Homo sapiens: one gene and its partner. The protein of the gene in region 1 binds, or shares a complex with, the protein of each later gene. Each region holds a gene or a part of one and is shown in the gene's direction. Other genes may lie near its edges.

Region 1 (17,331 bases):
TTACTTTATCCTGCAAGCTAATTTACACCAGAACAATCTGTGTACATTTACAATCTGTTCTGGTGTAAACACTTCAGTGCAAAATACTTCGACAAGTTCTATTAACTTGAGTGCATAAAATTTTATTTTGTAATTTAAATGGAAAAGTCCCTTACATTGTGAATCCCAGAACTGAGTACATGTCAGCTATGGACTGACCCTTGGGTGAATATATTGTATCTATAGGAATACTCTGTTTAAATGTAGGTACCCCTTAAATGCATGGCTCAGTAATTTATGTGAAAATAGCATAGCTTTTGTGACATGGTGATTCTGAGCCGTAACTCACTGCAAAGGCTCTGCATTCAGACAGCAAGTGGTCAGGTCCTGTACAAGTACCTGTGGCACTGATGAAAATTAACTGTGTGAGTTCGTGAAGCATGTAACCTTTCTAAATCTTGGCTTTTCTCATCTGTAAAATGTGGGTAATAAAAATACTTCCTCTTTGGGTTGTTGCAAGGATTAAATTAGAGAATACAAACAAAGCACTTAGCTCAGTGCCAGTCGATCATGGAAGCTGGCATTGTTGATGATGATTTTTCCTCACAGAGAAGAGATGCTTAAAGAAATAATAAGATTTCAAGCACGACTGGGGCAGGAAATTTTAGACAATGGAGGATTTTTCTCCTTTTAAATAATACCACTAGCGAGGTGCTGTCTTTACTGAGTCACGTTCTGATCTACAGAGCAATCTGTGTATTCTAGATGCGACTCAGGTATCCACTTTCATAAAGAAATAATTACCAAAGCTTCCATCTGCTAGTGTTTTAAGAACCCTTAGTCATTCTCTGTTTTAAATCAGTAAAAGCCATTGAGATTAGAGCTGAAACTGACTCTATTTCCATCAAAGAGTTCAGAAAGAAATCAACAGCCACCCATGATTCTCATTGTGGATATGTGACATCTCTTGCCACAAAGTTCACCCTGACTTTCTGGGAAACTGTGAAGGCACAGATGTATCTATAAAAATTAATCTAAATCAAGGACCTATCTCCTTTGTCTCCTATAAATCTGCTAGAGTACAGACCCACTAGGCCTCATTTAAAAAACACTAGATTGATCATCAGGGTGGAAGAATTACTGTGATTAGCCAAATGCCACTGATATTTTTGGAACATAGACGGGACCTTAGCTTTCATAAAAAATACTCTCAATTTAGTGATGAGGAAAAACATTTTAAAAAATGAACGAAGGACACAAATAGACATTTCTCCAAAGAAGATGTACAAATGGCCAATAGATATATGAAAAGATCCTCAATGCCACTAGTGTCTGTCTGCTCAAACTAGTGCAAATAGTCTTGTTCTGGTGCTTAACAGAACTGAAGATAACTCCCCTTGTTCTAGGCACTCTATTTTCATTGTTGTTATCCAAGGTCACATGAGCATTTCCTAACTCCCTGGGATGCCAATGCTGAAGAGAGCTGGAATGTTATGCCTCTGAATCAAAGTTCTGTTCCTACTAACAGAACTTTCTAGAAAATTTCTTCACATTGTTAGTGTCTATAAAATAAAAACTTTCTTATAAGATGATGATGATTTGCCTAATTATTCCTTTGACAAATGTGGTTGCCTTATATCCAATCTAGTTGCTACAAGGCCTTTTCGTTTATATTCCCTTTACTGAGTAAATCCTCATTACCCAGAACAGTGCTAGATGCTAAAGCACAAGGAGAAGTCCCTTGGAAAGATAGGATTGAGAAGCCAACACCCCCATGGTCACATCTTCCCAGGAGTTTTTTTTACTCCCCTTCAGGTGGTGGAATTTTCCATATTATCCCAGATGAAGACAGTGTAACACAAAAGTTTCCCTTCCCAGCCACAATCGACACAGGTGAAAAAAAGCCTTTGTTGTTTAAAGTCACTGAGAGTTTGGGGTTGTTACCTCAGCAAAATCTAGTCCAAGTTACTGACTCAAAACTGGATCTGAAAGTGGAGCATTGCTATAGAACTCTAAAGTATATGGCATTTGTCTAGGGGCCAGATAATGGGCAAATAAAAAAGTATTATTAGAAGCTGGAAGTGTCCATGTGGGAAACTAATAACTTGCCCTTTTAGTTTATAGGTCTCTGGAATGAGAGGATCCTCATATGGATGTGACAGAGAGAATACTGTTCTATTTTCTGCTATAAAGAACATCTTGGATGTTCTCCAGAGATCCTGGATTTTTAACTTGCAGCTGTGACTGGGCTAGGAATGTTGGGGTATCTGCAATAGAGAAGGGAGAAGAGTCTTTTGCCTGCAAGAAAGAATGTTTGTGTCCAGAGGAGCACAACATATAGTCATTAATTCTATTTACCAAGTAGTTTTGGCTTTCTCCTCCTAAGCACATAGTGAGATGGTTCTTTGTGCCCTCCTTAGAATTAGGATTTCCCATGTAACTTGATTTAGCCCTCAGATGTGAATGGAAGTGATCTCTGTCATTCCTAGGCAGAACATTTAAGTAGGGTCCCCTTGGGAATCCTCCTTTGGGAATTGTAAAAACACCAGTTGGAGCCTGAATTCCAATGTGAGATCAGTGTAGGACCGAGACTACTGGACAACCCTTGATGACATGTAGAATGAGCAAGAAATAAACCTTTATTTTAGTCTACAAAAATTTGGAAATTTTTGTTACTGAAACATAACCTAACCCAAATGACTGATATACTACGTGAGTTTCAACTATTCCCGTAATCTGCATGTGCTTCTAATGGCAGGGATAAACAAACAGCCTACCTTGTAGGCAGTATTGTAAAGATTGTATGTGCTGATACATGTAAAAGCTTACAACAGAGCCTGGAAAGAATAAATGTTCAACAGATGTTATCTAGTGTTATTGTTTTTTATTTTATAGATTTTAGAAAATGCTACTGGTACTCCCAAATCATAATCCCTTGGCCCACGTGGTTTTAGCTACAGCTGGGAAGGATGGCCCTTTGCAAGCTCAGACTTACCCAGGCTGATAGGGTTGCATCATAAGTCTATGCCACATTTCTATTTTTCTACTCCATAGCCTTCCCTGACACATGGAAGCCTATGCAACCCATGAGCAAGAATAGCCCAGAGATATAGGGGAGTTATTGCCCCAGGAGCAAACCTCAAACAATAGGGGACAGAAATTGGTGGGTAAATACTGATTTCTTATTTTTCAGGGGAACGATTGAGAGGTTCTCTCTTCACTTATCAGGAAATCTCAGTGGAATTGACTCTAAATTATTGTTCTTTTAGGTTTTCTAAATATTAGTTCCCCCTCTGTCCATGGGTGTCACCCAAATATTTTTTCAAATATTTGAAAGTGATCCTCATGCCCCACTTTTTTCCTCTGAGTCTTCTTCAGGCAAACATCTCCACTTGCATCAAATCTTACCTACAAGATATTGAGCCCCTTGCTATTCTCACCATCTTCACATAGTTGGTAAGTACAGGTGCAAACCTTGGTGACCTGGGGAACAGATGTCTATATACTTTCCTAGAAGCTATTCTGACTTGCTATACTGCACTAAAAGTTAATTAAAAGCTGGAAGTACTCCTCATTTTAGCAGCTCCAAGCACATCTCCCAGTTTTTAAATCTTGTAATAGTCTTTCTGACCCCAATAAAAAGAAAGACATCCCCATCATGAAATTATCATTATTATTCAATTGCATATCCCATTATTAAATACTTATTTAAATATTATGTTATTTAAAATAATTTACACTGAATATTTTACCAGGAACGATTTAATTCTCCTAGAAATCCTGTAAAGCAATACTGCTATTTTACTCATTTTGCTGATGGAGTAACTGAGGCTTACAGAGTTTAATTATGTTCCTTATGGTCACATAGCTAGTAGGAGGCAGAACCAAGATTTGAATCCCAAAGCTACGCTGCAGTCCGTGCCTTTATTACTTCTATAGCATCTCCCTGCATTGAGCCTGCTACTACATTCTGTACTAGACATCATCCTTTTTGATTAGACCTACCCTGTCACAATGTGGAAATGCCTTTGAATTTTAGATTTGTTGCCTCATATATTAAGAAATATTGGCTGGGCACGGTGGCTCACACCTGTAATCTCAGCACTTTGGGAGGCCAAGGTGGGTGGATCATTTGAGGACATGAGTTCAAGACCAGCTTGGCCAACATGGCGAAACTCCATCTCTACTAAAAATATACAAATTAGCCAGGCATGCCTGTAGTGTGCATGCCTGTAGTCCCAGCCTGTAGTCCCAGCTACTTGGGAGCTACTGTGGTACATGCCTGTAGTCCCAGCTACTTGGGAGTTACTGTGGTGCATGCCTGTAGTCCCAGCTACTTGGGAGGCTGAAGCAGGAGAATCACTCGAACCCAGGAGGCAGAGATTGCAGTGAGTCGAGATTGCACCACTGCACTGTAGCCTGGGCAACAAAGTGAGAATCTGTCTCAAAAAAAACTACAGAACTACAAAACACTGCTGAAAGAAATCATCAATGACACAAACAAATGAAAACACATCCCATGCTCATGGAGAACAGAATCAATACTGTGAAAATGACCATACTGCCTAAAGCAATCTATAAATTCAATGCAATCCTCATCAAAATACCACCATCATTCTTCACAGAATTAGAAAAAACAATTCTAAAGTTCATAAGGAACGAAAAAAGAGCCACATAGCCAAAGAGAGGCTAAGCAAAAAGAATAAATCTGGAGGCATCACACTACTTGAGTTCAAACTACACTATAAGGCCATAGTCACCAAAACAGCATGGCACTGGTATAAAAATAGGCACAAAGACCAAAAGAACAGAATCGAAAATCCAGACATAAACCTAAATACTTATGGCCAACTGATCTTCAACAAAGCAAACAAAAACATAAAGTGGGGGAAAGGACTCCCTTTTCAACAAATGGTGCTGGGACAATTGGCTAGCCACATGTAGGAGAATAAAACTGGATCCTCATCTCTCACCTTATACAAAAATCAACTAAGATGGATTAAGGGCTTAAACCTAAGACCTGAAACTATAAAAATTCTAGACGATAACATTGGAAAAACCCTTCTAGACATTGGCTTAGGCAAGAAATTCATGACCAAAAACCCAAAAGCAATTGCAATAAAAACAAAGATAAATAGCTGGGAGCTAATTAAACTAAAGAGCTTTTTCATGGCAAAAGGAACAGTCAGCAGAGTAAACAGACAACCCACAGAGTGGGAGAAAATCTTCACAATCTATACATCTGACAAAGAACTAATACCCAGAATCTACAACAAACTCAAACAAATCAGTAAGAAAAAAAAATCCCATCAAAAAGTGGGCTAAGAACAGGAATAGACAATTCTCAAAAGAAGATATACAAATGACCAACAAACATATGGAAAAATGCTCAACATCACTAATAATCAGGGAAAGGCAAATCAAAATCACAGTGCGATACCACCTTACTCCTGCAAGAATGGCCATAATCAAAGCATCAAAAATCAGTAGATGTTGGTGTGGATGCGGTGATCAGGCAACACTTCTACACTGCTGGTGGGAATGTAAACTAGTACTGCCACTATGGAAAATAGTGTGGAGATTCCTTAAAGAACTAAAAGTAGATCTACCATTTGATCCAGCAATCCCACTACTGGGTGTCTGAGGAAAAGAAGTCATTATTCGAAAAAAATACTTGCACATGCCTGTTTATAGCAGCACAATTCGCAACAGTAAAATTGTGGAACCAACCTAAATGCCCATCAATCAGTGAGTGGATAAAGAAACTCTGATATATATTGATATATATGGATATATCATATATGGATATCCTATATATCCATATATATGGATATATCATATATAAATACTATATAATATATATTATATATAATATTATATATAATATATCTTATATATATTATATATAATATATATAATATACAATATAATATAATATATAATATAATATAATATAAATATAATATATAAATATATATCCATATATGGATATATAATATATAAATATATTTCCATACATATATATGAATACTACACAGCCATAAAAAGGAATGAATTAACAGCATTTGCAATGACCTGGGTGAGATTAAAGACTATTATTCTAAGTGGAGTAACTCAGGAATGGACAACCAAACATCATATGTTCTCACTGATATGTGGGAGCTAAGGTGTGAAGATGCAAACGCATAAGAATGATACAATGGACTTTGGGGACTTTAGGGGAAGAGAGGGAGGCAGGTGAGGGATAAAAGACAACAAATATGGTGCAGTGTATACTGCTTGGGTGATGGGTGCACCAGGTTCTCACAAATCTCTACTAAAGAACTTACTTGTGTAACCAAATACCACCTGTACCCCAGTAACTTATGGAAAAATATTTTTGTTAAAGAAAGAAATATTTTCCATCTTCCTCAGCGCTAAGTTTATAGTCTGCCACTGTGCACCCTTATAACGATCCTTACATCTAAATGAGATATTCTCATTAAACTTTTCCTATTTCATTAGAAAAATACGTTAAAGTTTGTAAATAGTGATTTTAACATCAAAACTTGCCTTTAACTAGAGGGCCCTAATTCTGGCTCTGCAATACCTATTACATGTCTGTAATTATTATTAATGTTATTGATCAATTTTTCCTACTTTTCCATCTTCTGTGCACATGCTAAGACAGCACTTCCTGACCCTGCTGTAGTCGAATGGGTACATATGATTAACCTTGGTCAATGAGCTGTGAGAAAAACTGGCAATGAGTTACTTACTTTTGGGCTAGAGCCTATAATTACCTACTTAAGACCATCCAGAGCTCTCTTTTCCTCTATCACAATGATAATCAAAATTCCAGAGAGTGACCACTGCATCAGCCTAGGTTTATGAGTGAGCATAGCATGAGACAGACCCTCAATACATTTGAAGTACAAGAGAAATAAATCTGTATTGTTTAAAACCACCAAGATATGTCAATCATTTGTTACAGCAGCGTAAACTATCTTAACTTGAGAGATGACTTATTCTTGGACAAGTCACTTTCCCTCTCTAATTTTTAACGTCATAATCTGATTTAACAAATAAAGGGAAAAAATTAACATTTAGTGAGCATCTCTTAAGTATAAGTTGCTTCGTTATATATAATTTAATTTAGTCTTCTCAATGACCATAAAAGGTATTATCTCCTGCAAAAATATTCCTAAATCCAAAGAAATCTCTCAACTCCACTGCTCATAGAATCCAAGCCACTACTATGTCTTACTAGCCTCTTACCTACCTTCTGTTAAAATTTCTCCCTCGTTAATTCTCCAGTGCAAAATCTTTTAAAGACTTCTCCCTGCCATTTGAATCAGAGCTAAACTCTCTTCCATGGCCTATAAGAGTTTACATGAACCTGTACCTGCCAGCCACTTCAATCTAAGCATTCATACTTTGCTGACCACTTATTAAATTCCAGTTATTCTGGTCTTCCTGATATTTTTAAAACCTATCCAGCTTGTTTCTGCCTCAGGACCTTTGCACTTGCTATTACTTTTGCTGAGTAATACACTTCCCTTAGCTCTTTCATGACTGACTTCATCATTCAGACCTCAGCTAAAGTGACATCTCCTGAGATAAGTTTTCTTTCACCATCCTTGATAAATAATTATTTATCAATTACTATCTGAAATTATATTATTAATTTATTCATTTGCTTGTGTGTTTTCAGAATTCCCTACTGCAAGAAAAGCTCCACTAGGGCAGAGACCTTGTCTTGCTTGTACACTAGTGTTTCTACAAAGCTTAGAACATTCCCTGGCAAATAGTGAATCCTCAAGAAGTTATTGTGGAACGCAATCGAATTAATGATGCAGATAAGGAAATAAGCCTCTAAGAGTTTGGGTAACTGTGCCAACTTTCCTAAATTTCTATGAGTGTTCCTAATTCTGAAGTCCATTTGCCTTTTGCTTACAGCAAAGCTCTGCTGAGACTGAAGAGTCAGTTAGCAGTCAGGGCTAGGCACTGTGCATGCGCCCTTTCAGGCTTCGGATTCTATCGTTGATGCAGTTAAAACCAAAAAGTCACATTAATCATGTTATCACATTAATCCCCAGAGAACCCTGAATTTCCAGTGGAACAAGATAACTTGAGAAATCTATTGATCTCCTATTTTCATCATGCTGTACGGCTGACAAGGGTTAGTGGAGATTGGTATTCTTTTGCCCATGGCCCTGCAACTTTAATTTCTATGTCTACCCAGATTCCCACAACTTTGCAACCTGCATTGCTCAAAGTGCCCATCCATGAAGTTCGAGTGGCTTCTTTTGTGTCAGCTCTGCCTTCCCAGCTCCTTCCCATTCAGGGAGAGGTCTCTGCCTCCTCCCCTGCTTCCTGACTCGAAGCCAGCACCCCTCTCCTCCAGTGCAGCCTAACACACTCTCATTGGCCCTCAGCCTGTCAAGGGGAGGGGCTTGTGTCTCCGGGGCTCTTCAAAAGGGATCGGCGGTCCAGGCAGCCTAACCTGGAGGGTGAAACACTCACTCTCTCCCAGCCTTCCTTACGAAGCCTGTGACTTTCGTGACTGCTTTCTCTTTTTTGTTTTCCTTTTTTCTTTTTTTTTTTTTTTTCCTGGCTCAGCTTGAAACAGAGCCTCGTACCAGGGGAGGCTCAGGCCTTGGATTTTAATGTCAGGGATGGAAAAACTTCAGAATGCTTCCTGGATCTACCAGCAGAAACTAGAAGATCCATTCCAGAAACACCTGAACAGCACCGAGGAGTATCTGGCCTTCCTCTGCGGACCTCGGCGCAGCCACTTCTTCCTCCCCGTGTCTGTGGTGTATGTGCCAATTTTTGTGGTGGGGGTCATTGGCAATGTCCTGGTGTGCCTGGTGATTCTGCAGCACCAGGCTATGAAGACGCCCACCAACTACTACCTCTTCAGCCTGGCGGTCTCTGACCTCCTGGTCCTGCTCCTTGGAATGCCCCTGGAGGTCTATGAGATGTGGCGCAACTACCCTTTCTTGTTCGGGCCCGTGGGCTGCTACTTCAAGACGGCCCTCTTTGAGACCGTGTGCTTCGCCTCCATCCTCAGCATCACCACCGTCAGCGTGGAGCGCTACGTGGCCATCCTACACCCGTTCCGCGCCAAACTGCAGAGCACCCGGCGCCGGGCCCTCAGGATCCTCGGCATCGTCTGGGGCTTCTCCGTGCTCTTCTCCCTGCCCAACACCAGCATCCATGGCATCAAGTTCCACTACTTCCCCAATGGGTCCCTGGTCCCAGGTTCGGCCACCTGTACGGTCATCAAGCCCATGTGGATCTACAATTTCATCATCCAGGTCACCTCCTTCCTATTCTACCTCCTCCCCATGACTGTCATCAGTGTCCTCTACTACCTCATGGCACTCAGAGTGAGTATCTAGGCTGGGGTGGCCTGAGGCAGCATCCCTTCTTTTTTCACAGGCTCAAAGTTCAGAGAAAAACTTAGAATTGGGGAAATTCAGAAATGGAAGGGAACAGAGGGAAAATAGAATGAGCTCAGATGGGAAATTGAGACTTAAAAGGACTTGCCTCAAATGAGATGAATGGTAACCACAACTATTTATCATTTCCTTTAGCTCGTCTTCTATTTTTCTTCCCTCTATTCTTGGGGTTCTCGTATCTAAATGTTCCTAAGAATCATGCAGAAAACTTACTTTGGGAGCAATATGCATACCTCACCCCCAGGAAAATGGGATTCAGAAGGTCTGAGGTGGAGCCTCATTTTAAATAAGCACATCAGGTGATCTGGGGTGAGGTGGCCACACTTTGAGAGACTTCTCCACATCCTGTTGTCACTTTCCAGCCCCTGGCCACTGCCTGCATTGAGATTTTCCTGTACACCAACTTGGTCTGAGTATAACACAAACTATCCCTGCCTATTTTGTAGTCCAAGATAGGTATTCAGTTTTAAAATCAGACATTTACTGTGGTTGCTCCGACCCTTTCATTAAAATGAGGTTGAAACAAAACAAAATAAAACTATATATATTATATGTATAGTTACATATATAATATATAGTCATATATATAATATATAGTTATATATAATATATAATCATATATATTAATGACATGACTGAGATAACTTGAGCTTCTTTTGAGCAGGTGCAGATTGAGAGATAAGGAAGTAAACAGCACATGAGATAGAGTGAAAAAATGTGAATAAGAGCTTATCTGAAATTAAGAAAAAGATATCACTTATTTTGCAACATATATAATTAGAGGTTCTTTTCCTATGTTTATGGTGGTAAACTGATTTCTTTTTCAGAAGGGGGGTGTCTAAATTAGCTGAGAGAAACTATTTTTAATAAGGGTAGGAATTAGTCTATATAATTCCTCTCTGGTATATTCTGCACCCAAATTCATGAAGAGAAAAGTTCTTCACAATGACAATTTTACACCCACTTAAGGGAGGTATTATAGCTTGTGTAGTAAACAGTTACGAGACCATTTAGACTCCCAGATCTACAGCTGACATATAATATGCCTTTAGGCAAGCCACATCATTCTCCTGGAATTAGTTTTCCCGTGTATAAAATGAAAAGGTCACATCAGATCCTATCTATGTCCCCTGTAGCTCTAACAGTCTATTATTCCTTTAAAAAAAGAAAAAAAAACACCTGTGAGCTGAAGTAATGTGAGTTTTAAATGACAGGACAAACAGATATCACATTCACATCATTTGCTTTGAGATGGCTCTGACATCACACTTTATGTGACAACTAATATACTCCTATTTCAGTCCATCTCTGAGAAGCCGATTGTCAGAAGCGAGTGCCCAATGGTAGTCCTTTTGAATACCTATTGTCCCTAAGGTGAATAGCGAGGTCTAAGTAGGAAGAACAAATTCTAAGTGTCACGGACATCTGGGCACAAGAGTAAATCTAATTAGGCAGAGAGCTGTGCCAGTCCCCTCCTGGAGGGCTAGCACCTGTATTCCCAGAGACATGTCCCACCCCGCACTAGCTCACAGCCATGTCTTAAGAACGTCCTGCACATCTCACTGCGGGGAAAAGACTTCTATACAACTCCAAAGAAAGTCTTATGAGAAATACCCACCCACTTAATATTACCTCATCCAATGCCAAACAGTCACCTATTTTGGGTCAATTTGGGAAAAATATTTAACTTTGAGTAGGAAATGCACAGTTCCTCTTCCAATCTGTTACAATCAGTTTCATTGTGTTTTATTATCAAAAGTCCATGGCTACCTTGTATCAGGAGGTAAGTGACAGCTCAGACAAAAGTTTAAAAACCACCCTGGTTTGCTTTGTGTATGTAATGCAACTTTTGACAGCCTGTTTTCAGGAAGGATGAGCTGTTATCCAGGGTACCAGAGGACACCAGGAAAGAAACTAACGCTTACAAAGTCACTTCTAGAAGAATTTAAAAATCTCTATACTGAAACTCAGGAAAAGTAGGCCCTATTCTGTGTCACTGATCGCAGGGCCTTTATGTACACTATACCTGTAGCCTGAAATGTTCCTACTGTCTGCCACCACTCCCCCTTTTGCCTTTCTAACCCTCATTTATTCTCTGTGTCATACTTCAACACGCTTCCTCAGGGAAGCTCTCCCAGATTCCCTGAGCATCCCTGTTTCCTGTTGTAGGTACTCATGGCTCTCCGTGATTTTCCTTCATTACAATTTATATTTCCATACTTATGGATTCCTTAATTAATTGTTTTCTCCCCAACTAGACTGTAAGCTCAGTGAATGAATGAGGCCAAATTACTTCCTTCATTGCTGGGCTTTAGCTTCTCTACCTTTAAAACAAAGACTTGGAAATATCATCTCAAGGAGACCCAAGCAATCCTAATGATTAAGTGAGTGACTCTGTTGGATAGTTTGAAGGTATGATTGACTCTGGGACCCACTGCTTTCAGAAGGCAGCAAGCCCAAGACTGATGAAATCACAGGACCAGAGAAGAAGGAGGAAACCCATATCTGTGCTCACAGCTCGGCATTCAGTCACGCTGCATCATTCCAGGACACAGCCACCACTGAGCTGTTCTCCAGGCTTTGAACATTATAGAGATAGAAAATAGACAATTCTAGGGCAAGTCCCTCCACATGTGGGAGGAAGTTCTGGTGACAGTCTGATTTAGTTCTTACATCTCCTGCATGCTGCATTCATGATTGAGGTGATGAGGATGGATGTATGAATTGCAGCAGAATTCAACCATGCCAACACAGGGTTGCACTAATTTTTTTAAGTAAATAGATTGTGTTAAGATTATAGAGATATTTACACAAAACCTATATTATAATCTGGTATTCTGAAACTAAGTCCCACAAACTATATAAATGAACATCTGGTAGAGTGATTTCAGGCAGTATAAACAACTGATCAGCATAATGTATCAACCTGAATAATAACCTCGCGAACCTCCCTTTCACTTTGCTCTTCTGTAGCTAAAGAAGGTAATCACAATTTTTAGTAATCACACTATATAGTAATGGTAATCACAACTTTTAGTAATCACAATATTTAGTAATAGTAATCACAAATTTGCACTCCTCCTTTTGTAACCTGAGTTGTAAAATAAAAGTTTTGGGGTGGGGAAGAATAATGAATGGTTGAATATCTACTTTACTAAACATCTGTAGGGAAGTGAAATTATTCAACGATAAAGCAGCATTGAATATTGGCTAGACTAACTGTTTTGATTCTATTCTATTCTGTCAACCACTCCAAATTCTGTTGGAACAATGTACACCATATGTAAGTAATCAATTTTTCACTCTTCCTCTAGTTAGCTAGTTAGGTCATTATAAACTAAGGAAGCTGCAAAATAAGCAACAATTCATCAGCACATGATTTTCTTTTTAGTGTAAACTATGCTGCTACAGGAAGCCTGTTCATAAAAGAATTGCGTGAACTATTTGTTTGATGTTTGATTTTTTTAAAAATTGTTCCTTGGGGTGGAGAAATTACCATTGAGAACTGTTAAACACAAGGCAGGAAGTGACTAATATATCTCAATATTTTTTATTGTTCTTAATTATGAACTGAAATAAAATAATAGAATAACTGCATAATGTAAAAACCACAATCTTTAAGTGGCATGAAGTAATTAGAACCTTTAATAGATTTAATCTAAGATGAGTTAGTAAAGTTTGAAGTTTGATACATTGCTCTAACCTTGAATGTGTTTTTCTTCTCAGCATATCTGCCTCCTTTGTATCAGTACAGGCACTCTTTGTGAGCGAGTGGTAACATGAGAAAAGAATTTCTAGAAGGGACTCAGTACTTCACAAAAGTAACCTCACATATATAAACAAACAACTCTAGTTTTTAAAAATCATTTTTTCTGATGTCTCTTTAGTATACTCTGGATAATAATCAGAATCACTGTAATAACAGTAATATACAACTTGCTGAGTATCATGTGCCAGGCACTGAGATAAGCACTCTACCTGCATGATTTTGTTTTACTATTGCATTAATAATACTTTTCACCTTCAGATTTTTCCTTTCTAGTCCTAATCTCACAGAGTCTTTAATCCTTTACTTTATGAAGACACAGATACATGTAGAACACTCCGATATATTCAAGAGACAAATGGCCAGGTTTATACATTATCCAAGAGGATTCTTGAGGTCCTATGTGGTCCTGAGTGCTACCTAACTGCAAGCAGCATATATGTTTGTTAGGAAGACTGGATATGGATTTGCTGAAGTTTCGAGGCAGCTTTTAAAGACCCACTCTTCCAAGTCTATTTAATTTTAAATACCTTTTCTGGAATATTCCTTCAAAATGCTATCCAGCCCAGGACGATTATTGCTTCTTATAGCAGTTTGTTTCATTATTGCACATAATCACAACAATTTCTTCCTTATCTTGAATTAGAATCTATCTACCTGTAACTAAATAGATTGATTCTAATCTACTGCCATGACTGTATAAAATAAGTTAAATTTTCGTTCCACCTGATGGCTTCAATCAATTAGCCTGGACTTTTTACACTGCCAATGAGAGACTCCAACCCTGGGTAAATACCAAAGGGAGCATAGACATGAAAAGTTCAGAAGCCGAGCTAGCTCTTGGTGAAGATTAATTAAATAAAACACACGATCTTATTATAAACCTAACTTTATTTCTGTTTCTTTGCTCTTTTTTTCTATGGTGTTGGTTTCAACCTCAAACTGCACACAGTCATCCTTTGGTGGCTCCAAGCATTTTTTCTTTGTGGTGGAAAAAAAATAACGTTTGTAATTCCAGACCTCATATGCAGAGAAGGACTCTCTCTGGCAGTCCCAATAAAAAATAAATGAAAACTTGCATCTTCAGAAGCACAAGCAAATATCTGAAATCTCATTGGTCTGCATTATTCAATCATTGTGACTGGAGGATAGGACAAGTTGATTGGCTAAATTGTTTAGGGACTATACCTGGAGCTGAAGTTTAGTGACACCTCTATACAAATTAAAGACTAAGAATGGGGAAGGAGTACATTCCCTAAGGGAAAATTAGGGTGCTATTATTAAGAGAAGAGAGAAGTAAATGCTAGAGAACTAATGGGCAAATATATATTCACTATGTACTATACTAATTTCTGGATATTTGATGGTATTTTATCATGAGTCCTTAAAGCTTCCTTTATTTGGCCAAACATCCCCACAAATTAAAAAATGTGTAAAATAAAGAGAAAAACTTCCACAACTGGATGAATGATGTAGATCTTCAGTGCTGTGGGAGTTCAAAGGAAGGAGAAGACAGTGGGCTAAAGTGGTCATCAAAGTCTTTCAGGAACAGGCAGGACTTAAACTGAGCAAGGAAGATTGTGCATACAAGTAGTGTTGATAGCTGAAAGTTTCAAATGTTACATCAAGGATCTCCATATCGTCCAACAAGGATGAATATACTTTAAACATCTTAACTCAGAAACACATAAGACTTTTCAGTAATTAATATTACTGTAATATTAAAACAACATTTCCCAATTTGTGTTTGTCAAGATGGTACAAGGTAATCCACTGAAAAGGGTTGGGGGAAAATATTGTTTACTCAAATAAACACTATCTCCCTTTTGGCTAAGATATGAGTAGGTGATGTGAGTGTGGAAGGTAGAGGGGAGCTAAGTGGAAAGTTGATACACTATCCCCCTTGAAAATTCATAATGCCCATCAGCATATTTAAGTCTCTGAGAAGATCCACAATAAATACTGATGAGGCAAGAAGAATTCCTGTTTTGGTTTTCTACTAATTATCCACCACAGAGCAGAAGGATTTCACTTTAACAGATTTCTAATAATTATGAATGAGTGAATGAATGAATTGAGAAGCCTTTCTAACTTTTCTTGAACTTCAGAATTTTACATTTTTCATGGAACACCTATTAACATGCTACACAGCCAAGTTTCCACATAACTGTATACGAAAAGTGGTTGCACTATTACTTGGCCACAATCACTTATCCAGTTGAGTAGATGACCTGAATCCAATTCCACCTTCAACATACTGTTAAACATTTGACGTAGTCTTACATTTCTCTAGGTCTCAGTTCTTCTGTCTTCAAAATGAGCGTTTGAGTTATGTTTCTCAGATTTTAACAGGAGGAAAAATGTTTCTCTTTCTTACTATCTCTCCCAACTTACTTCCCTTTCAGCTAAAGAAAGACAAATCTCTTGAGGCAGATGAAGGGAATGCAAATATTCAAAGACCCTGCAGAAAATCAGTCAACAAGATGCTGTGTAAGTGCCCCATTTTGTTTTTTGTTTTGTTTTGTTCATAAGAGCAAAGGAGGTACATTTGGTACCAACTAAATGCTGCTGGGGTAGGTTCCAATTTATCCTGAAACAGAGTATTTATGAGAGTAGATTAAGATCAAGGAGCAAAGGGGAGAGATATATAATGAAGACACCTCCTTAATGGTCTATGTCAACGCTAGGTGACCTGTCTTCCTTTGCTTCTTCAAGCTTCTAGGACCTGTGTGTTTTGTTTCATTTTTGGTTTTGAACCCTCAAAACAACACTCTCAGTTTCATCCACTGACATACACTCTGTGTGGTGCTTGGTAAATTACATTCACTTTCTCAGCCTTTGAGCTTCACTTTCCCCCTCTGTGAAATAAGCAGGTTTTTAACCTATTTGTATTATGGATTTCTTTTAAAATATGATGAAAGCTGTAGACTCTCCATTCCAAAAAAAAAAAAAAATGAACAAATATGCATACACAAAAGATTTTACAATCCATCTCAGGAGGTCACGAACCAACCCCTGATACTCATAGACTCCATGGGATCTTTTAGTTCCAGGTTAAGAACATCTGGCAAGCATCTCCAAGTAGCCATTTCACATATGACATTGTATAACTTTGTTTCAAACAGTATACTTTTGAATAAATAAGATCTTTTTAAAAATTCACTTACTGAGCCACAGTCTCCCAAAAGAATGTTATAAAAATATATGATACAGCACTACTATATGAGAGGAGTTACTGATGAGGGAAAGGAGATTTATAATACATTTTGCAAATCAAAATCTAAAGTTTAGAAGAAATGAATCCTCCAGGCTAATATGCATATGAAACATTCACTGTAACTATACAGCATTTCTGAACAAAAAATAAACTGTGAAGTCCCTGAAGTGGGTCTTCTCGATTCTAAGAGTTATCTTCTTGGAAATATTTTAGCTCCTCTTGGCACTTGACTTTCTCTATCAAGAAACATAGTTTCTTCATTATCCCTCCCCTTTTCTCCTTGGTCATAATCTACTCTCACAAAAAAAAAAAAAAAAAAACATGAAGCTCACTCATATTAAAGTCACAATAGCAGAATACACTGTAAAGTATTTGCGTTGGGATGGGGTTCAACTTTAACAGGAATTAAAGTTGTTTGTTGTTGCTGTTGTTGTTGTTGTTTTTGAGATGGAGTCTTGCCCTGTTGCCCTGGCTGGAGTGCAGTGGCATCTCGGCTCACTGTAACCTCTGCCTCCCAGGTTCAAGCAATTCTCCTGCCTCAGCCTCCTGAGTAGCTGGGATTACAGGCGTGTGCAACCACACCTGGCTGATTTTTGTATTTTTAGTAAAGACGGGCTTTTGTCCAGGCTGTTCTTGAACTCCTGACCTCAGGAGATCCACCCCTTGGCCACCCAAAGTGCTGGGATTATAGGCCTGAGCCACCACGCCCGTCAGGAATTAAAGTTTTAATTAAAGGGAATTGTAGGCAGTAGTGAACAGATTAGGGACTTTTCTTGGGTTGGCAAATTCAGTAGAAACCTATAGTTATCTTTGAAACCATACCACACAGGCAAACAACTTACTCTGAATGTGTTTAATGCCAACAGGAAATGCATGTATAATACTGCTTACTATGAAAACTTCATATCTGTACACAAGTACAG
Region 2 (9,929 bases), on another chromosome or scaffold:
ACAACGGGTTTAAGCTGCATGGGTCCACATATATGAAAATTTTTTTCAACCAAGCACATTCATGGGATGCAAAACCTGAGTATACAGAAAGCCACTTTTTCCTATGTGTGGGTTCCACAGAACTGCCTGCTGGACTTGAGTGTATGCACATTTTGGTACCCTTGGAGGTCTTTGTACTAATCCCCCTGAGTATACCGAGAGACGATTGTATTTTTAAAATCAAGTATATGAAATTATAGTGTAGTAGGTGCAGTGCAACACCACATGTTCATTTCTTTCATTTCAGCACTATAAAATGTATCAGTGCCCTCTTTGATGAGCACAGATCCTGGAAGGTCAAGAAACAGGAATTGGAAGTGTCCTTCCAGTATTTATATTTATTATAATATTTAGAGTATTGGGCTAATTGGGTCTTAGCTTGTTCAATTTAAGTTATTAATCTTTAAAAACCTCTATTTATCTTCTAATGGAAATTTAGATGAAATGAACTCTATGACAATGTCATTTCTTTTCACATGTTCACACTTCACATCCCTAGATTATAATGTCCTGTAGCAGGATATTCCCTGGCACAGAGCATGACATATAGTGGGCACTTGGCAAGTAAAAGTTGAATGCAAAAAGTGGTGAAAGATGATTAGACACTTCTCTTACCTAAAGTGAAAGTGTGTTCTGAAATGGCAGAAATGTATTTTTGTGATACGTATTTTTCAATCACTAAACTCTGTTTTATTACAACACCTTTTATTTTTTAAAATAGTCCTCAAAAATCCTTGCTGTTAGTGACGATTGGTTTTATTTTTTTCTATTACAGAACCGAATGCATGAAAGCATGAAATTGTTTGACAGCATATGTAACAACAAGTGGTTTACAGATACATCCATTATACTTTTTCTAAACAAGAAGGATCTCTTTGAAGAAAAAATCAAAAAGAGCCCTCTCACTATATGCTATCCAGAATATGCAGGTATTTTCCTTTTCTGGGAATAACTTGTCAAGTTACATATTTCTAAGTGAAACTTCCCCTAAGGCAAGAATTCAGTTGTTAATTTAAATCTCTTGGCTTAGTGATTCTTAGACCTTTAAGGGGTATTATTTATCAAACTGCAGTTGAGCATAAAAATTTCCTTAAGATGTAGATGAAATTACTGAAAATAATGTATTCATTTTATGGAAAAGCAGTTAGATAATTTTTAGTGATGACTCCAAGTTAAAATACTATTTTTTAAATCCAGTTAACAGATTTCATATCAGGTACTGTGTGATGTACAATAAATAAGACATGTCTCTGCCCACCATCTAATCTGAAAGACAGACATACTTAAACAACAGGCAATAGCAGTGCAACCTACTGCTAAAATAAGGAACATGAACATTATAGTAAGGGGAAATGAAGACAGGATCATTGAGGCAGCTAACTCTTCCAGAAGGGCAGGGAAGGTTTCACAAGAAGCCAAAACTTTGGTAATGAGACTGTTAATAGTGCTTTAATTTTACTATGATGGAAAATTCCCTGGAGTGAGGAAAGTAGACCTGAAGTACAGTCCTGACTTTTCCATAATTAGCTCTTTGATCTTGAACAAGGCAGTTAGTTCACCTAGGTCTCAGTATTCCATCTGTGAAGTCAGGAGTTGGGCTAAAACATTAGTTTTAGTTTAATTTAGTTCCTTGGAGCACCTCCTGGGTTGCTGTTGAAGGCGGAAATGGGAGAGGGAACAGAGCTAATTACTGCCCCCTGCACCCACCACCTTATAACTTTTTCATTAAAGCAGAGTAACTCAGCTTTCATCTGGTTTATGTATTGAGTAAAGTTTTACTTTAGTGAAGAGCATTCAGTATGCCTTAAAAAAACAGGGAGTTTGATTACCACTGGTTTATGTAATCTCCAAATCTAGATAGTTTGAAGAGTTTAGTTATTTACCCTCACCCCACTCTTCCTGTTTTTTTTTTTAAAAGTCTCAAGAATTTGTTTTTTTATAAACAGAATTTTCCTCAGTCTTGTGTTGAGTAAATTGTACGATGAGTATTCACTGCCATTTTACAGGAAATGTTAAGACAACCCTGTGATGTCAGTGCTCAGGTATCCCTACCCATACAAATGAGAATACCGGGGCTTCCTGAAGCCAGAGTCCAGTTCCAGACCCAAGTCCATTGTCCTCCTGCTCCTAGACCATGAACGACTAGGCTACATTTAATTAAACATTCAGTGGAACCAAAAGGGGAGGGTTCTTTGGTAAATATAATCATGTTACTTATAGCTCTTTTTGTGTACGGTGAAATTACACTTCAGTTCAAACTAATTTCACACATTTACTTACTTTAAAACTTTGCTTTCTTTTTGAAAGTCAAAGTCCTAAATCACTGTATTCAGCAACATTTTTTTGTGCTTATTAGAAATAAGCTACCCAGAGTCAAGATGGCTTAATTTTTCCCTTATTTGAATATATTTTTCAGTTTATTTTTATCATATTCTATGATGTAGCCATTTTGTACTAATTCATAGTACCAGATTCCCCAAGTGAATCCATAAATATTGTATACCTACGGGGATTTTAGAGCAACTAAGAATATACTTGTTAGCTCTTTCCTTGCCAAGTAGACAGTGTGTTTAGGAATTTTTGCTTGTGTTTTGCTTAAGTTAATAAGAATACCTGACTTCAGAATCTTTGCACAAAAAGAATATTACATAATTCTTTCACATCCCCAGAGTTAAGATTATTGTTTAAGATCTCCATGGCATGCCCAAAGTATTGATTCAGTTGCTTCTTGCTTCAGCCGCAACTCTCAATTTCCTGTGGCTGTGGAAGAACCCTGTGTAGCCCCTAAACAACTCACTTGATTTATCTCCTGTCTGTCTGCTCCTGTGTTACCCTTCTCCTCCTCTTCTTTTTCCTGTATGTTGCCACTTCACCAGTTTCATCTGCAGTCACGTCATCTTAGCTCTCTTATCCTTTCATAGTCGTATCTATTCTCAATAGGTTAAATTTTGTGGTCAGCCCTAATTTCTCTCTGGAGCCTTAGATTTACATTAGCAACTGCTTGAACATACATGTTTTGTTGTTGTTTGGTTGGTTGGGTTGGTCGGTTGGTTGGTTGGTTAGCACCTGAAGCTCAAACAGAACTCTTTTTCTTGTTTACACTCAGATCTCTTCTCTTTCCCTTTTGATTGTGTCATCAGCCTCCCAGTTCTTCATTTTTGAACCTGGTTATCACCTATACTTACCTTTGTTCAGGACAATTCTATCACACATTAAAAAACAATCTATCATATTTGCTCTCCTGTCCCTGCTTTGCCATTTGTTTCTTAAGACTTAAAATCAGAATGAAGAATGTTCATTCATATGTGTTGTAGCTTTTAGGGTAATCTAGCTAGCTGCCTAGGATATATAGAGCAAATTGAGCTAGGCACTCAATGTAAGCTGTTTGGCTGAAGCATAGTTTAATTTAGCAGTTGCATTAGCTTCTGTGGGCCAACAAGATGCTGTTGATTGCTTTAAAATTTTGGAGAACGAAACTTATGATTTAATAAAATTTGATTTTTAAAAGTATGTGATTTCTAGTGATATAAAAGAGTTAAAATGTAAACTTAAAGACGATAGCTTTAGTACCTTTTTATCCCTAATAAAAATCTCATAATCTATGCTGTCATAGCACATTACACAACATTCCTATGGGCATTTGTCACATTGTATTACACTGGATTCTATAAGATATAAAAGGAGTATGAGGCTTGTGGGGTATGATATTTACTCTTGAAGAGTTCACATTCTAGTTTAGGAGATTCAGCACTGAAAAAGAATTTAAGACTCTATAAAGCAATATAACAAAAACTGAAATAGTTATTTCTAGGAGGAGGAAAAAGTTTTTAAGTGATAGAGAACCCAGCTAGATTTGATTAATTAGGAAAAGTTAGATGGAGTGCCAATTTTGAGCAAATGTGAAGGCAGGCAGAGATCTCAGCCGGTGAAGTAGAATGAAGAGGAAGTACTACAGTACCACAGGTGGCAGTTTGCATGTTAGGTCCTCACGACATGGACCTGGGGTGAGCGCCAGTGTGGAGGAGAGGATCTCAGAATGATGGCACTGCAGAGCAGGCTGGGTAGTAGAGGACCTTGAAAGTCTGGCAGATAATTTTGGATTATTACTACAAAAGAGGGGTTTAAACAGTTTTTTTCCAAATGAAATTTGAATGTTTTTCAGTTTTTTTATTGAAGCATTACATAGAGCATTACATTATATACATTAATGTATATTATAATATTATGTACATACATACATACGTACACACACACCCTCAGCATAAGTGCGTGTTTAAAGGTTAATGTACCAGTATCCACCACTCAGGTCAAGAAACCAAACAGCTTCAGGACCCCAGAAAGCCCCATCATGCTTCCTCTCAGTCTTAACCAATCAAACCCTCCCCACAACACACACATAACACAATCACAACCCATACACATAGTAATCACTGATTACTCACTGATAATCACTGAAGACCTTAATAAAAGAAAGAACACAAAGGAAATATACACCCACTTCACATGTTCCACAGACACTATTGGTGAGGTTTTTGTCCTCACCAGTTCATTTTTCAAACATTGTTGGATCATACAGTATGCGATCTTTTTGCATCTAGCTTCTTTTGCTCAACAGTACACTTAGGAGATTAATTCATGTTACTGAGTACTTTCATTCTCACTTCTTCTGTGTCTTCAGTGATACACAGTTCTGTCAAGTGTATATCTAGAAACTGAATTGCGGGGTCAGAGTGTGTGTGTGATTATCTTTAGATATTGCCAAACAATTTCTGGAGTGTTTGTACTCAGAGGAAGTCTTTTATAGTCAATAACCTGAAAGCTGGAGTGTGTCATTCACTTTTTTTGTAACCTCATACTCCTAAACATCATTGTAGACCTTGGTACAATTTTTGAATAAAGAAAAATGAGTGAAGAATGCAAATTAATGTATATATAGAAAAGGGAGGAAAAAATACTGATCAGCATTCAGCCAACATTTTTTGATCCACCATTGGGCCAGAACTGAAATAGCATGCCGTCGTCAAGCATCTGAGCTGGGGTGTAGAGGACAGAGGATAAGAGGATAAAAGATCTGGCATTTGAGGATTGAGGCAGGAACAAAGATCATGATGAACACGGAATGCCATGTAAAGGAAATTTTTTGTTTAAGGGATAACTTAGTCATTAAAGGTAATTAACATGGAGTGTTTTTCATTTAGAAGAAATAGTGTCTCCCATTCTAGAAGGGAAAGCACAGTTAAGGAGTCCATGAATGAAACTGTATGAAACTGACTTCAGTTTCATATGTATGAAACTGAATTCAGTATTTTAAGCAGTTATTTTAACTTTTTGCATTTATGTTTCTTTCCTTTTTCCATCTCAGGATCAAACACATATGAAGAGGCAGCTGCATATATTCAATGTCAGTTTGAAGACCTCAATAAAAGAAAGGACACAAAGGAAATATACACCCACTTCACATGTGCCACAGATACTAAGAATGTGCAGTTTGTTTTTGATGCTGTAACAGATGTCATCATAAAAAATAATCTAAAAGATTGTGGTCTCTTTTAAGTTTTGCAGTTCATGGTAAAATGCATTTTCAAACCAAATGAGTACTTATATATGGATCTCTGTAGACTAGAGTCTTGCAGCAACACAGAATGTAATATAAGGCAAATGCATCTGGGACTTGACCAAAGTTGTTCTGTTTTGTTTTTTTAACTGAAAGTAACAGAAGGACCTTTCTTAAATGTGACAGATGGTCCTGCAGTGTGAAACTGAAGGACAGTGTTAAAGCTGGGCTCTAGTATATTGATGATTTCTGCATAAGTGTAAATATGCAAATGTATGTATACATGTATTTATGACTTTAGTTTTCGACATTATTTTTAGGTTTTAAGAGTGGCAACTTAGGATTTTAGGGTGATGGCTTTGGAAATAACATAAATATACCTTGTACTGAATGACAGACTATTACTACGTTTGCCAGTTTTAAACAGCTTTATTTATGTTCATGTCCTGTAAATTTTTAAGTACAGTAATTAATATTAGGAAACATTACAGCCCTTATCTAGATTATATGTATACTTGTATTAATAAAAATGTTATTTGTACAAACATTGCACAGACTATTTTAATAACATGATTTGTTCTTTAAATTTTATGTGTTTTATTGAAATGTTCTTAAGATGAATACACCTGCCTTTGGATCAACTATTTAAACATTGTATGCATTTTGATTTTTCCTACTTTAAGAAAATAAAATAATTTAATTTTACATTAGATTCCACGTTAGATTTGGTTTGAAAAACTAAAATTTCAGATTTCTGAGGATATACTGTCTTAGACTTATTGTACACACTTAGTTTTTATTCACTTGTTTTCACTCTGAATTTTAATATTTGGCTGATATGAATGCATTGCCTCAAAGGTGATGTCATCTTAATTTTTATTCACTTTAAATAACTACATTTTTGTTTATAACTAAGTTTGGAGGGATCCTAAGAGCATTTTTGTGGGTAAAAAAAAAACCTGTGGACATAATGAATTTTGAGACATTGATTGGTGAGGCTTTTATTTCCCTTGAGGAGTCTCTTGTACCTAGCATACATGATAGCTCCTTGTTGGGAAGATAACAAGAAGGATCTTTGAATACTCTATTGCTGATATAATGCAAGATTTAAATTTATACATATAACTAATTTCAAATGTAATTATCACACTATGTTAAAATTACTTTTTTCCCTTAGATAATTCAAATTTCTCCACTTGCTTGAGATTATATCATTTCTTTTTCAATTATACTATTATTTCTGAGAATGAAATGGACGATTACACTTAGAAAATGAGTAATAGTGTTTAATAAGTCAGTGATTATATGTGTGCTCAAATAAGTGTTATGTATCAGCTAGATACTGAGCTTTGATAGAATAATTTTCTTTTGATTATTCATGATGTGTCATCTCTGACCTTGTTTCAGCAAAGTAAACAGCACTCCCCACCCCACCCTCCTTTTTTTACTCATCTTGGAAAAGGTTAGTCTTTCAGTACACGTTGCTGGTAAGTAGTTTCCAAGTTACGTGTTGTCACTGGGTTGAAGTATATTTGTGTGTGTGTGTGTGTGTGTGTGTGTGTGTGTAACCATAAACTATATTCATATCTGTTTCATTTGGAGGATTTTCTTCTTTGTAATGTAAAGAAATTCAAAGTTATCAAAGTTCCTTAAATGTGTTAGTTTAGATTCTTTATGTGCCTTTCATGAAAGATATGTTTTCATTAATTTTACTGGTGGACCTGTAATATCCACATTGTGAAGCTGTGTATGAAATTCAACTATAATATGAATAAATTTGAATCATGAGAATTATGGGTTAAAAAGCCACAAAGAAGCACATATTGGTGACCATCATTAATGAAATCCTGAACTTTATTCTGTGTAATTGTGTTAATAAATCCTAATAAATTTAAATTTTTAAAATTTTACAAACCTATTGGCTAAGTACATTTTGGATTAGAATTTAAGTATCAGTCTGTTGTTTCTTCATTTCTTCTTTTTCTATGCTCTTTTTACAATTTCAGCTACTCCAGAAGCTCAGATTTTCCCTGTTCCAAGCTATGAGATGTGATGCCACATTTGGAATTGCCTTCTTGATATCCCCTTCTGAGAATGCATTGCCTGCTTTTTAACTCATTATATTCAAAACTAAATTCATCATCATTCTCTCCTTACACCAGTTCTCACCCTGACTTTGCCATTTTTCCTTACTAAGTACCATCATCATTTATTCCTTCAATGGGGAACTTTTTAGTTTAAGTTCTGGGATACGTGTGCTGAACATGCAGGTTGGTTACATATGTATACATGTGCCATGGTGGTTTGCTGCACCTATCAACCTGTCATCTAAGTTTTAAGCCCTGCATGCATTAGGTGGAACTCTTCTGATTCCTAATCTCCATTTCAATTTACTGACAGTTCTACAAAGCCTTAAATCTGTTTTTTGTTTGTTTTCCTTTCTATTCCTACTACTACCTATTCAAGTCTTTGCTAAACTTCCTCTTAAAATGGCATTATTAGTTAAATTCCCCACCTCCCATTTCTCTCTTCTCGAAAAACCCAGGTTAGTTATCCTAATGTAGAACTGTGGCCCTATCACCTTCTATTCCTTGATCTGCATTGGCTCTGATTTGTCAATAAAATTAAGTATAAGTTAGCCTGCCATTTAATGCTCTTCATCACCTGAGGCCTGTTCCTTTCTACACTGTATCCAAATAGTGTCCTGTGCATAACCTGGGCTTTCCTCCAAGTACTGTATTACTTACTACATGTGATATGCTTAGAGCAGTGCCTACAATGTGGGAAGTGTTCATTTGTGTCTGTCAATGTTATTTTTATTAGCACTTTTAAAATGGTGTGTAAAATGTATTGGCACTTTTAAATTTGGCACTTTTAAATTTGTTTGTGATACCTCTTTTAGACTCCTCTGGCATCTGTTCTTCAGGGTGCCCTTCTGGGAACTACATGATTCTGATAGAGCTGCCAATCGCATTTCTTACTTCTCCGTCTCTAGGCTTAGACCTGACCAATCCGAGTCCTCCAGCATTGGACGAGTGAGCCAATCATTGTCCCAGTTGCCATTCTTAAAGTCCCTAAGGCGCTTGTGGTTTCTAAAATTCTCTTCATTTCAGTAACCTTCTAAAAGTCTACTTTTTTATGCCTAATCTAGTTTAATCGAATTCAGTTTGTTACTGAAAAAGTACTGATTAAAATCCATATGTTCTCATTGAATACTGACAGTAACTAGAGATCAAAAAAGGCTTAAAGAGGTTAATTAACTTGAGCAAGACCAGATGAAGGTTTTAAACCTAGAGCTTCTGACTCCATGTCTGTCAGAGGACCCCAAAGATGCTACCTTATTTCCAGAAAATGTGTAAGTAGTGTTTCGCCTATCCCCACTCTGCCCTTGAGTTCCTCTGAGCCATAATAGTTTTTCAGATTTAAAAAAGGAGATACTTATTAATGTCTTTCATCAGAGCTATTTTTTACTCCTTAGATGTGAAGCTACTTAAGAGCACAGTTACCATTTTTTACATCATTTGCCGTTTGCAGAACCACCTTATGTAAATGAATTTAGTTGATACTGTAATCATTATTACAGATGGTAGCATCATCATTGCTTAGTGTGTTATGTTGGAAGTAGAAAGTGATGGTGAAAATCCTAGGCTCTGGCACCCCGTCTGGCTTCAAATCCTGGCTCAATTTCTTATTAACTGGGAAAATCTGGGCAAATAATTTAGTTTTGCTCTGCCTCCATTTATATCATCTGAAAATAAATAAGGATTAAATAATCCATTAATTTTAATGGTTGTTGTCAGCATTAAATAAGTTCACAGTACATGTTAAGTACCTAGAGGGGAGTGTGGAATGTATAAGCCGTCAATACAATTTGCTGTTATTTGATTATAAATAATAGTTTTAAGGTGCCTTTAAAATCATAATCAGTGCTTAACAAATGGTTGTTGATACGTGCTTTGAATGAAATGCCTCAAAAACAAAACTCTCATAATTCGTTTTCATAATGAAAACTAAGTGTCTCACATATTGATACTGGAAAATGAGAAAATGCAATCTCTAATCAACTTGAGGACACTTCTGTCGTTTTAATGTAACCAATAGTATGAGAGAGTTTATATTTTAATGTTAGGTTGGAAATTTTCTTTTTTTTTTTTTTTTTTTTTTTTTGGTATGGAGTCTTGCTCCTTCACCAGGCTGGAGTGCAGTCGTGCAATCTCCACTCTCTGCAACCTCCAACTCCATGGTTCAAGCAATTGTCCTGCCTCAGCCTCCCGAGTAGCTGGGATTACAGGCATGCGCCACTACACCCAGCTAATTTTTGTATTTTTAGTAAAGG

What was found.
Region 2: the proteins of NMUR2 (region 1) and GNAI1 are in contact, whole or in part, in a cryo-EM structure (PDB 7XK8), measured with the Homo sapiens proteins. Residues at the interface, in NP_064552.3 of Homo sapiens: Thr78 (codon at 8,859), Thr80 (codon at 8,865), Glu143 (codon at 9,054), Arg144 (codon at 9,057), Ala147 (codon at 9,066), Ile148 (codon at 9,069), Pro151 (codon at 9,078), Phe152 (codon at 9,081), Ala154 (codon at 9,087), Leu156 (codon at 9,093), Met239 (codon at 9,342), Leu243, Gln259, Cys262, Arg263, Val266, Leu330, Ser331, Arg333; in NP_002060.4 of Homo sapiens: Glu28, Ala31, Arg32, Leu194, Ile343 (codon at 5,554), Ile344 (codon at 5,557), Lys345 (codon at 5,560), Asn347 (codon at 5,566), Leu348 (codon at 5,569), Lys349 (codon at 5,572), Asp350 (codon at 5,575), Cys351 (codon at 5,578), Gly352 (codon at 5,581), Leu353 (codon at 5,584), Phe354 (codon at 5,587).

What each region holds. Positions count from the first base shown.
Region 1 is NC_000005.10:152,396,410-152,413,740, reverse strand, and holds the start of NMUR2 (neuromedin-U receptor 2), read left to right. Parts: upstream 1-8,461; 5' UTR 8,462-8,627; coding exon 8,628-9,353; intron 9,354-15,596; coding exon 15,597-15,681; intron 15,682-17,331. UniProt on the Homo sapiens protein: Receptor for the neuromedin-U and neuromedin-S neuropeptides.
Region 2 is NC_000007.14:80,211,902-80,221,830, forward strand, and holds part of GNAI1 (guanine nucleotide-binding protein G(i) subunit alpha-1), read left to right. Parts: intron 1-814; coding exon 815-968; intron 969-5,401; coding exon 5,402-5,592; 3' UTR 5,593-9,929. UniProt on the Homo sapiens protein: Guanine nucleotide-binding proteins (G proteins) function as transducers downstream of G protein-coupled receptors (GPCRs) in numerous signaling cascades.